Regions from separate parts of the Homo sapiens genome. Here all the other regions are linked to region 1. Evidence: fine-mapped expression QTL. A gene starts in region 1. Each other region holds a variant in brackets. All regions are shown on one strand. Distances are from middle to middle.

Region 1 (4,244 bases):
ACTGGGCATCACTTAATACATGAGCATAAGACAGAGCCACATCTGCTGTCTCTGCTGTTTCAAGATAAAATTCCCAGTATGTCCTGCAATGGAAGACACTGTCATTACCCCTACCAGTAGACGGTGATATTAAGTTTGGTGATATTAAATCATCAAAAGTAAAGTGAAATTCACTTGAAATGAATGTAAGCTCTTTAAGCACAGGGACTTCTGCCTATTTGTTCACCGCACTATCCCTAGCATCTAGATCTGTGTGGTCCAATGTGGACAGTCACTAAGTTACACGTGGCTATTTAAGTTAAATTAAAAATTCAGTTGCAGCTGGGTGTGGTAGCTCATGCCTGTAATCCCAGCACTTTGGGAGGCCAAAGCAGGAGGATTACTTGAGGCCAGGAGTTCGAGGCCAGGCTGGGCAACACAGCAAGCCCCCGTCTCTATTAAAAAAAAAAAAAGATTAGTTGGGCATGGTGGTATGTGGTCCCAGCTACTCGGGAGTCTGAGGTGGGAGGATCGCTTGAGTCTGGGAGGTCAACGCAGCAGTGAGCTGATCGCACCACTGCACTCTAGCCTGGGCGACAGAGTGAAACCCTGTCTTTAAAAAATAAAATAAAATAAAATAAGTTCTTCAGTGCCCAATGAATAGCTCTGCAAGACAGCACGGGGACTCTCAGTTATTAAATGAATGAACACTAAGATTGACATTCTGGTTTCTTATTATCTTATGTATCTGAAATAACTAGGCTTCAAAAAACTCTTAACTATTCTTCCTTTAAAAGTCTACGGCCAGGTGCAGTGGCTCAAGCCTATAATCCCAGCACTTTGGGAGGCCAAGGCGGGCGGATCACCTGAGGTCGGGAGTTCGAGACCAGCCTGACCAACATGCAGAAACCCCGTCTCTAATAAAAATACAAAATTGGCCGGGCATGGTGGCACATGCCTGTAATCTCAGCTACCTGGGAAGCTGAGGCAGGAGAATCGCTTAAACCCGGGAGGCGGAGGTTGTAGTGAGCCGAGATCACGCCCTTGCACTCCAGCTTGAGCAACAAGTGCGAAACACCGTCTCAAAAAAAAAAAACAAAAATAAATAAATAAAAATCGACTAAACTAGTTGTATCTTTATAAGACAGAAAACTGATGTACGCAGAAGAATGACAAACTATTTTTTATTCACAAATCCTAAGTCACTTGATTTCTTTTCGACAAAAACAAACTCCAATTTATTACAATTTTATTCCCCAACGAACTGTACCGTAGTTCCAAAGAGCTGACTTCCTTAGGACCTTCCCAGACGAAGGTGTTCCACTCATTTTCACCACTCCGTTTTATCGTCCGTCTAAACTCTGGTTTTTGCAGACCTGTCTCCTGCGTCCCCTTACACGTGTTCCTTTCCGGAGCTTCCAGGGGACCCGGAGCATAAGAATTCAAACCGAGACCCTCAGTCCCAGCCCCCGCCCCCGCCCGTTCCTCCCTACACTCAACCGCTGGGACTAGAAGCTCCCGGCAGTCCTTCCAGCAAGAGGCACCGAGTCTGGGCGTGACCGAGCCAGTCCCGCCGAGGTCTCAGGCCACAAATCCACACGCGTCCTCCCACCCTCCCCGGGCCCGGGTGTGGTCGCGGACCGCTAATGGCGCGGAGCCCACCTCGTAAAGCGCCTGTACCATCTCCACCAGAACCCACTGCTCCGTGGCGGTCGCCATAGTTAGCCGCTTCCTTCCGGAAGGCGGGTCACAAGCGCGTCCCAAAAGTGCGCGTCGCTGCTCAGTGTCGTTATCACCTCCGCAGAGGGCGGGGCGGCGGAGCGCTGGGCACCGCCTACTCGCACTTGCGCACTGGTTGACAGGAGGCTGGACGGGGTCAGGTGGGATGCCGCAGTTTTTCCAAGAATTGTTTACCTTGTGTCCTATTACCCTCCCTGCTGGATTCAGGATGGAGAAAGTAGTAATGAACGGGCCTTACACTTGGTCATCAGCTGGGCGCAGAGAGTTAAAATGATTGCAATACGTTTACTTTATTTTTTTTTTTTTGAGACGGAGTTTCGCTTTTGTTGCCCAGGCTGTAGTGCAATGGCGTGATCTCGGTTCACCGCAACCTCCGCCTCCCGGGTTCAAGCGATTCTCCTGCCCCAGCCTCCCGAGTAGCCGGGATTACAGGCGTGGGCTACCACGCCTGGCTAATTTTGTATTTTTAGTAGAGACGGGGTTTCTCCATGTTGGTCAGGCTGGTCTCAAACTCCTGACCTCAGGTGATCCGCCTGCCTCGGCCTCCCAAAGTGCTGGGATTAGAGGCGTGAGCCACCGCGCCTGGCCAATACGTTTACGTTTAGTAGCATAAGTAATCCAGCAATGCATTATCATTAAGAAATGCATAATTATACACAAAAATAGCCAACCCATATAGCACTTCCTGTTTTGTCAGACATAGGCCAAGGCTTTGCAGGTATTAAATCATATAGCAGTTTGGTAAAGAACCTTTTAGAGCCTTCCAATGCATATGCAAACAGTATGCACGCGCACATACTTAATTGGATTGGATTTCTTAAATATAATTGAGATCATAGGGACAAGACTTTTCTACAACTTTTTTTAAATTTTTTTTCTAGCATTTTTTTCCTAATATATCTCATATTTAATGGCTGAAGACTTCCATGGAATAATTTATGTATATTCATCGTTCCATTTTATGTAAACGTTTCCCTATTGGTGAATACTTATGTTGTTCCCACCTTTCCCCTATTACAAATAATGCTGCCATAACTGTCGATGTTCCTTGTGTGTATATCTTTCTGTGCATGTTGGAGTTTTTCTGACCAGTTTTTTCAACATGGGATATATCTGAAGACTATGCACGTTATTAATTTTGATAAGTACTGCCAAAATGGCTCAACCAATTAAAATAATTTGGAAGTTTTTCTATGCTCTAGTCCATGATGGATATTATCAATCTTTTAAAAAAATTTGCCAGTTTAATGGAGATAAAATGATACCTCACTATCCTTTATTATTGATGCTTCTGGTTACTCATGAGGTTGTGCAGCTTCTTATATGTTTATTGGCATTTATAGACTGTATGAATCGCCAATTCATATTCTTAATCCATTTTTCTATTGGTTATTTTTGCCTTCTTATGGATTTGTAGGAACTCTATACATTCTGAATATCTTATATTTTTCTGTTTCATATGTGAAAAATATTTTTGCTCAGTTGCCGCCTAGTTGTTTCTGCTCTTTCATCATACTTTAATTTTAAATTTTATGTAGTGCTTCAGTCTGTTTTTTGCCTCTGGATCTGCATATTGCTTAGAAAGGCCTTCTTCACCACATCTATGGTTTCCAACCATTCTTGCAGCAGTTTGTTGTTATTTGCAATTAGCTCTTTACTCTGGAAACTATATTTTTGGATAATGAGAGTTAAGGGACTTAATTATGTTTTTTTCTAAAGGAATAACAATTTTTTGAGTGCCATTTATTTGAGTAACCCTGACTTTCCCCAGAATTCTGAAATGGTACCAGTGCTATTGATACAGGAGCCAAAAAGAAATTATTTAGGCAGATAGTGAAGGTAAGAGAGTCCTCAGCAGAGCTTCTTTCTGAACAAAAAGCAACCCCAAAATTATTTCTTTTTTGCAAAGAGCAGCCTGAAAAATTGAGCTACAAACATAGATAAGCAAGCTGGCAGTGCACGGGAGAATGCTGGCAGTTGTGCCGATAGAAAAAGACTACCTGGAAGCCAGGTATGTTCAATATGGAGACTCCATCTTCCATTTTCTTTGTCACCACGTGTACAGTGAAGGAACAGGCAACATGGCATCAGTCAGGTAGAGAAGCCATCTGCAGAATAAAATATTAGGGTGGGAAGGCCAGCTTCTTCATGCACTATGCAAATGGCACACCTGGTCCAACCAGTCTTTCATTCCCTACGTAAATCAAACGCCACTTCCTCAAGCTCATCTATAAAACCCTGTGCGTTTCACCGCAGAACTGGCAACCCATTTTCTCTGGGACCCCTTTCTCTGCACAGATAGCTCTTCTCTTTCGTTTGCCTATTAAACTTCTGCTCTTAACCTCACTGTGGTGTGTCGCGTCCTAGTTTTCCATGGCTGTGGGACAATGAACCTCAGGTATTACCCCAGATAATGATGCCGCTACACTATGTGCTACATTTCCACATAAGCTGGCGATATGGAGTCCGTGTCAGTGCTCTGCTCACAGTCCTGTGCTTGCGTGCATTTCCTCCCCCGGGTGCTT
Region 2 (4,244 bases), 61 kb before region 1:
TATACAAGGAATTCTTTTAAAAACAAAAAAACAACCCAATTTAAAAAATGGGCAAAGCACCTGAATAGATATGTCTCCAAAGGTATACGCATGGCCAAACAAACAAACAAACAAAAAAAAAAACAAGAAAAGAGGCTCAGCATCATTAGCCATTTGGGGGAAACAGGATCAAAACCACAGTGAGATACTACCTCATGCTCACTAGGGTGGCTAAAACAAACCAACAAAAAACCCTGGAAAATATAAGTGCTGACAAAGATGTAGAGAAACTGTAACCCTGGTATATAGCTGATAGGAATGTAAAATGGTGCAATCGCTGTTGAAAACAGTATGTCAGTTCCTTATTAAGTTAAACACAGAATTACCATATAATCCAGCAATTACCCTGCTAGATATATACATAAAAGAACTGAAAACAGGAATTCAAACAAATACCTGTACACAAATGTTCACAACAGCACTATTTGCAATAGCAAAAAGGTAGAAAGAACCCAAATATCCATCTGTGGATGAACATATAAAACAAAACGTGGTATTATCCATGCAATGGACTATAACTCAGCATTAAAAAGGTATGAAATACTGATACATGGTATACAATGTTAATGAACTTTAAAAACATCAAGTGAATGAAGCCAGAAAGAAAAGGTCATATATTATATGATGCCATTTATAGGAAATAACCAGAAAAGGTAAATCCATAGAGACAGAAAGCAGATTGGTAGTTGCTGGGAGCTAGAGGGAGAAGAAAATGGGGAGTGACTGTTTAATGGGTTTGAGGTCTTCTTCGTGAGTCATGAAAAGGTTTTTGACCTAAAGTTGATGGTTGCACACATGGTAAATGTAATAAATGTCACTGTCCTGTACAATTTAAATTGGTTAATTTTGTGTTATGTGAATTTCACCTCAATAAAGGAAATCTCAATGGTCATGGTTTCTAAAAACAGTTATGCTGCTTTCACTATTAAAAAGCTAAGTTTTGGCCATGCGTGGTGGCTCACGCCTGTAATCTCAGCACTTTGGGAGGCCAAGGAGGGTGGATCACCTGAGGTTGGGAGTTCAAGACCAGCCTGACCAACATGAAGAAACCTTGTCTCTACTAAAAATACAAAATTAGCCGGGCATGGTGGCACATGCTTGTAATCCCAGCTACCTGGGAGGCTGAGGCAGGAGAATCACTTGAACCCAGGAGCCAGAGGTTGCGGTGAGCCGAGATCGTGCCATTGCACTCCAGCCTGGGCAACATAAGTGAAACTCCATCTCAAACAAAAAACAAAACACAAAAAAACAAAAAAGCAAGCTATGCTTTCATTCATATGCAATTCTACAAAAGGTAAAACTAATCTACAGGAATAGAAAGTAGATTAATGGCTGTCTGGGGCCAACATGGGTACTCACTACCAAGAGGCATCAGGAAGCTTTCTGGATAAAGTTTTCTTTCTGGATAAACATTGTCTTACATAAAAATATTCCGTATCTTGACTGTGGTGGTGGATGGCTGCAGTGATACAGATGTATATACATCTGTCAAAACTTATCAAACTTTACCCTTAAAGTAGGTGTATTTTATACGTTGATTTCACCTAAATAAAGCTGGATCTTAAAAGCTACGTATGGCCGACTCAGTGGCTCATGCCTGTAATCCCAGCATTTTGGGAGGCCCAGGCGGGCAGATCATGAGGTCAAGAGATTGAGACCATCCTAGCCGACATGGTGAAACCCCGTCTCTACTAAAAATACAAAAATTAGCTGGGGGTGTCTGCGCACGCCTATAGTTCCAGCTACTCGGGAGGCTGAGGCAGGAGAACTGCTTGAACCTCGGGGAGGAGGTTGCAGTGAGCCAAGATGGCGCCACTGCACTCCAGCCTGACGACAGGGCAAGACTGTCTTGCGGGGG[AG/A]AAAAAAAAAGCTAAAGCTAAGTTTTGGCCAGGTGTGGTGGCTCATACCTGTAATACCAGCACTTTGGCAGGCTGAGGCAGGAGGATCGCTTGAGCCCAAGAGTTTGAGAACAGCCTGGGTAACGCAGTGAGACCCCTACTCCACAAAAAAGGGAAAAATCAGCCAGGTGTGGTGGCATGTGCCTGTAGTCCCAGCTAACTCAGAAAGCTAAGGTGGAAGGATCACTTGAGCCCAGGAGGGTAAGGCTGCAGTGAGCTGTGTTCACACCACTGCACTCCAGCCTGGGCAACAGAGCAGTCTTGATTACTCTTTGAAGGCCAGCACTGGCATTCAGTGTTGTTCTTCTTCCCTGATCTGAGCAAAATATGCTTATGAGGCCTAATGCGCAAAGCAACGCAGACGTTATACACTAAAAGCGGTCATAAACAAAAGGCACATCTGTCAAATAGTCCAAATATTAAAATTACAGCTGAACATGGTTGCTTACCAATTCTGGAAGAGGACAAATAGTTCCAGTATTCATATACAATCCTTCTACTACAATGAAACGCCGAGTTACACGAGCCTTGCGAGGATTCTTTAAAAGAGAAAAAGCAGACATCTTACATTTCAGTAACTCTGAAGACAAGATCTGTTACATATTCCCCAGCACTTTCACCTTACAAGATTTATTCCTAAAAAAATATTCTGAATGAATTGAAAGCTCAGTGTTTGTGATGGGTTATTTTGAGATGAACAACAGTACTATCTTCTCTCAGACGTTTTTCAGCTCACAGCATTAGCTAGGTGACCCGCCACACACACAAACTAATTAGGCCCTCTGAGAATATTAAAACACAAACAAAACCCTCCAAACCTCCAACTGGGAAGGGGCCTAAGGGACTTTCTAAAGAAATGGGAATGTTTTACATCATAATGGGGCTGACATTCCTGGGTTACATGGGTATAATCACTGGTCAAAATTGTATGGCTGCATTCATGTGATTCAATGTCTGTCAATTTTACCCAAAACAACTATAATGAAGGTCATCATCATGAAGATGGGGTGAGGAACAGATGGCACAAGAATGATGTAATGCTGATAACAAAGCTGGGAGAAGGGTACAGGGGGCTTCACTATACCACTGTGTTTCCTTCTTATATGTTGGCATTTTTCCATAACAAAAAGTTAAAAAACTCAAACCGTTTTCCTTCACCTCCCAAAAAAAGGGGCAACCCTGTTCCCTCCTCACTCCCCACTGATGTATTATCGGATCAAGTAAAATTTGACTATGAGCTTGTCCAATGATGTTCCCAGGTGGTGGGGTAGAGAGGTCTCCTTTTCTTTTTTTTGAGATGGAGTCTCACTGTCACCCAGGTGGGAGTGCAGTGGCGCCATCTCTGCTCGCTGCAACCTCCGCCTCCAGGGTTCAAGCAATTCTCTGCCTCAGCCTCCCGAGTAGCTGGGATTACAGGCACCCGCCACCACGCTCAGCTGATTTTTGTATTTTTAGTAGAGATGGGGTTTCACCATGTTGGCCAGGCTGGTCTTGAACTCCTGACCTCTTGATTACTGACCTCGGCCTCTCAAACTGCTGGGATTACAGCTTTGAGCCACCACGCCCGGCAGAGATCTTTTCAAAAAACACACACCTTCACACACTCTGCTCAGAGCAAGTCACTAATAAATCTCCCACATGTATGAAACTGTACATGGTTCAGGTGTGTGGGACTGCAAAAAATACTGAGATCCACAGATAGAGTTTGCCATTACCTTCTTACTCAGAGATCTCTTGCCTCTAAGTTTCTGCTCCAATGGACAATTAGAAATGATCAGAATTAGAAAGTATCAGAGCAATGCTTTAAGGGGTATTTTACAACCCACAGCAGTAGCACTAAAAAAAAAGTTTGTTGAGGAATAAAAAGTACATATCACTGATGTTGCTCAATCATCTTTACTCTGTCAACTCACAACTGAAAGCTGGGGAGCTAGCAATATGTTAGAAGTGATGGATGAAGAGATGCCACCCTAATTTCTACACAGGGCATGCTACCTCTGCCTGTCTTTAAGGAAAAACATTTTCTTAGATTTAAAAATATTCAATGTAGGATTCTTGGGAAATGGAAAAGTACAAAAAACAATTAAATAAATCAGCTAATCATACCACACGGTGATAATTTTTGTCTTTCTTGTATAAACATATAAATTACTTTGTTCAGAATCAGGATTTTACTGTAGTTTTAGGACCTGATTTTAAAAACATTATGCTGTGAGCATTTCTAAATTATTTCGGATTACATGATTTTAATGGAGACGTTCTGCCTGTGAGTATACCATAAACTACTTATTTCCCTAATGTTGGATT
Region 3 (4,244 bases), 170 kb before region 1:
ACGGAAGTGAAAGTGCCTCCTCCCTCCTTTCTACGCATTAATACTGCATTTGTTTTCATAAAGCCAGTGTTCTGAGTACAGTGGAGACTGGTCCATGCCACAGGCTGTGCTGAAGGAGGTGGTAACAAGAGCACCCACCAAAAGAGGGCTCCAGAATAAACGGGACTGGGAAGGGCTGGATTAAACAAGGCTCAGCAGATGCCTCGTGGCCTGAATCTCCGGGCCCCACCCCACATTCACCTGCACAAAGATGTCCAAGAGAGACTCAGTGCCACTCCAAGCCCAGGTTCCTGGGCTCTGCACCCAGAGGGCCACAGCCTATGTGATGCAGGGAAGCAACACCTTCCAGAATTCGGAGCTTCCAAGCCCACGGGAACCCCAGAGCACAGCTGCATTCATGGCAACTCAGCCCCGCTGTGCGCAAATCAAGTGTGAAAGGCCATTTCCAGCAGGGCTGGGTATCAGACAACACCAGGGCTCCTTGTTGATAACAGTATTGAGATGGTGTGAAAAAAACAGTTCTTACCATTCATGCTGAAGTATTTTCAGGTAAACAATTAAGGCTGTCTGGGGACTGTTAAGTAGGCCGGGGGAAATGAAACGAAATGAACGTGGCAACTGTTGAAGCTGAGTGAAAAATATACAGCGGTTCACTGCAGTCGTCTAATTTTATGTGTGTTGGAATTTCTATAATAAAAATCTTAAGAAAGAAAAATCAGAAAACTTGGGGCAATCCAGAAACTAGACAAAGACAGAGATTTTCAGTCCCTTCAATGAAATGCTGTCTGGCCTCAAAAGCACCTGGATCGCATCCATCCTCAGTCCCTGTGACACCATTTCCAATAAAATCATAACGTGCAATTCTTTTTTTTTTTTTTTCTTGAGACAGAGTCTTGCTCTGTCACCCAGGCTAGAGTGCAGTGGCTCGATCTCCGCTCACTGTGACCTCTGCCTCCTGGGTCCAAGTGATCCTCCTGTCTCTGTCTCGGCCTCCCGAGTAGTTGGGATTACAGGCACCCAGCCCCCACCCCCGGCTAATTTTTGTATTTTTAGTAGAGATGGGGTTTCACCATTTTGGACAGGCTGGTCTTGAACCCCTGACCTCAGGTGATTCACCTTCCTCAGCCTCCCAAAGTGCTGGGATTACAGGCGTGAGCCACCACCTCGCCGGGCCTTGAGTCTTTCTTTTAACAGCATGTGCTAAACTCCATTGTTCATTGCACTGGCTTCAGCCATCCATTGTTAGAATTTAACATTTTTAATTCTTTTTTTTTTTTTTTTTTTTGAGATGGAGTCTCGCTCTTTCACCCAGGCCAGACTGCCATGGCGCTATCTCGGCTCACTGCAAGCTCCGCCTCCTGGGTTCACACCATTCTCCTGCCTCAGCCTCCCAAGTAGCTGGGACTACAGGCGCCCACCACCGTGCCCAGCTAATTTTTTGTATTTTTAGTAGAGACGGGGTTTCACCGTGTTAGCCAAGATGGTCTCGATCTGCTGACCTCGTGATCCCCCCGCCTCAGCCTCCAGAAGTGCTGGGATTACAGGCGTGAGCCACCGTGCCCGGCCTTAATTCTTTACTTTGAAACCATTTCGCCTTTACAGAGAAGTTACAAGAATGGTGCATGAAACTTCCCTCTACTCTTTGCCCAGGTTCACTAATGTGTCACTCTTGCCCCATGGGCTTTATCATGGTCTGAGATGACAATAGTAGGCTGGAGACATCAAGCCCCTTTATCCTTTAACATGGCAGCGTGTATGTCCTATGAGTACAGACATCCTCTTACACCACCTCTGCACAATTAACAAACTCAGGAAAGACAAGTCTGACAACACGTTTAAATAACTTACGCTCACCTTCCAATTTCCTCAGTGGTTCCGTTAGTATCCACGACAGCATGTTTTTCCCTCCAGCACAGGGTCAGGGCCAGCACATGCACTGGACTGCCTTGTCCCTGTGGTGTATTGTATTGTACTGTCTTCTCTACCTACCCTGTGGTGTACTGTATTGTACTGTCTCCCCACCCCGCCCAGCCCCGCCCTGCCCTCCTTTCTCTTCTCTTCTCTTCTCTTTCATTTTTGAGACAGGGTGTTGCTCTGCTGCCCAGACTGGAGTGTAGTGGCACGATCTCGGCTCACTGCAGCCTCCACCTCCCGGGTTCAAGTGATTCTCCTGCTTCAGCCTCCCTAGTAGCTGGAATTAC[A/AG]GGCACATGTCACCACGCCCGGCTAACTTTTGTATTTTTAGTGAGGACGAGGTTTCACCATGTTGGCCAGGCTGGTCTTGAATTCCTGACCTTGTGATCCGCTGGCCTCAGCCTCCCAAAGTGCTAGGATTACAGGCGTGAGCCACCACACCAGGCCCCTGTGGTCTTCTTCAAGCTGGACCTGGCCTGCCCTGTTTCATCGCTCATGTCCTCGACAATTTTTGCTACAGACCATTGTTTCATAGAATGTCCCTCCATTTCGTTTGCTGATTTTTGCTCATAATCAGACTCTCTTCCCCAGATAGAAAGCAACCTAAATGATGTATGCTCTTGGGAAGGACGGCATCCATCTGCCCAAATCTGTGGCATTAACCTGGACCACCCAGGTATTGGGATGCAAATCTCGCCAGTCTACAGTTAGCAACTGTCCCTTGCCAACAAGGAATCTGTGGGGAAATCCTTTGAGACCACAGACATTTCCTGCTCCTCATCAAACATGTCTTCTTTAATGAGTTTAGCACTCATTCATGACGCCTGCCCAAATCAATCCGTACAGTTATTGCTGTAAAATGTGATTATTCCCAACTCGCCTCCCATTTATCAGTTGGCACTTTGCTCTAGGAAGTGCCCTCTCTTCCCCACCCCTCCCACTTAGGTTTTGTAGTAAATTAGTGTTTCCCTATCCACCCAGAAGCTCAGAAAGTGACCTTATTTGGAAATAGTCTTTCCAGTAGTAATAAGGAACATGAGATTAAATCATCCTGTATTTACAGTGGTCCCTAAATCCAATCACTGGTGTCCTTACAATAAAAGGTCATGTGAAAATGGCGATAGAAGTCAAAGTGATATAGCTCCAAACCAAGGGCACCATGAGCCACCAGGAACTAAAAGAGGCAAAAAAGTTTTCTCCCCTAGAGCCCTGGGAGGGATCGTGGCCCTGCCGCCACCTTGATTTTGGACTTCTAGCCTCTAAAACTGTGGGAGAATACATTTCTGGTTTTTAGGTCACCCCGTTTATGGCATTTTGCTACAGCAGGCCTAAGAAACTCATACATATAGTTATGTACTTATTATCAATGGTGAGTCCTGGATGCCTATTTTGTTCCTTGTATAATCCATGCTTGTCTTTATTTATTCTGATGCCTAAATGGTCCCAGACTTGGCTGCAACTCCTTCAAGTTGGCCCCTGAGTACATCTGCCATGCCCCCACCACTTTTCACCACTCACTTGCGTTCTAACACAAGAACACGTTTCAGGCTTATTGTGTATTTTTCCCTGTCCCCATCCCATATTCAGTCATTTCTCCAAGGTTCTCTAGCTCCTTTAAGATGCAACAGTATTGAGAAACCAACATCTGGGCACTAAGAAAGCTCACTGCTAATGAGGTGCTAAGAAATAACTGTTATGTGTAGAGTATGTTTTACAAATTACGGTGCATAATTTAACATAATATATACCAAATATATATATAAATGAAAGCATGAGTTACACTGATACCTCCAATTCCAATTCAACCCCTCCAGATTCTTCCTTGCCTTCCCCTATTCCATCCTTATATCTCCCTCCTTCCTCAGTGAGCACCCTGGCTACAACACTATTAACACACTTCTTATCTGTCTAATCTCACAATTCACACAAAGTCATTTCAGAATGGATATACCCACACCACTATGAAAATCAAACCTACTAAGAAGGGTGCCAGTTTTGCTTTCAGGTTGTTGTTTCTCCTGTAGGCTGAGGATACACCGTCAAAGCACTGAGTCCAACATTACGGTTTCTTTTCCCCCATCTGTGTAGTCATGTTACTCATTTGCAACACATTTGCATTTATGTGCTTCTTTGTATTCAATTCTAGTTTCCTGCTATTCTTAGTGATTTATTTTTTGAACTTGTAGAATGTTAGCATGTTCTAAAAGTCAAAAATATACCAAAAAATGAGAATAAACTAATAGAAAGGAAACCACCTCAACATAGTAAAAGCCATATACGACAAGCCCAGCAAACATCACACTCAATGTTAAAAGACTGAAAGCTTTTCCTCC

What was found. PIP is the estimated chance that this variant, and not a neighbour inherited with it, causes the effect.
Region 2: its variant is the best candidate, but not a certain one, in a credible set for the expression of SPTLC1 in whole blood (INTERVAL, PIP 0.54).
Region 3: its variant is the best candidate, but not a certain one, in a credible set for the expression of SPTLC1 in whole blood (INTERVAL, PIP 0.67).

What each region holds. Positions count from the first base shown.
Region 1 is chr9:92,113,673-92,117,916 of GRCh38, forward strand. It overlaps SPTLC1 (serine palmitoyltransferase long chain base subunit 1), which reads right to left and starts at 1,741. Exons shown (of 15, transcript NM_006415.4): 1 at 1,642-1,741. The coding sequence starts at 1,698. RefSeq lists an enhancer at 2,244-2,303.
Region 2 is chr9:92,053,019-92,057,262 of GRCh38, forward strand. It overlaps SPTLC1 (serine palmitoyltransferase long chain base subunit 1), which reads right to left. Exons shown (of 15, transcript NM_006415.4): 8 at 2,387-2,476. Among named protein-coding and RNA genes, the nearest start is that of SPTLC1, 60 kb to the right of the region's middle. RefSeq lists an enhancer at 2,691-3,311. The variant AG/A (reference allele first, on the strand shown) is at 1,898.
Region 3 is chr9:91,939,731-91,943,974 of GRCh38, forward strand. The region is part of intron 1 of ROR2 (receptor tyrosine kinase like orphan receptor 2); the gene reads right to left. Among named protein-coding and RNA genes, the nearest start is that of ROR2, 8.4 kb to the right of the region's middle. RefSeq lists an enhancer at 249-763. The variant A/AG (reference allele first, on the strand shown) is at 2,202.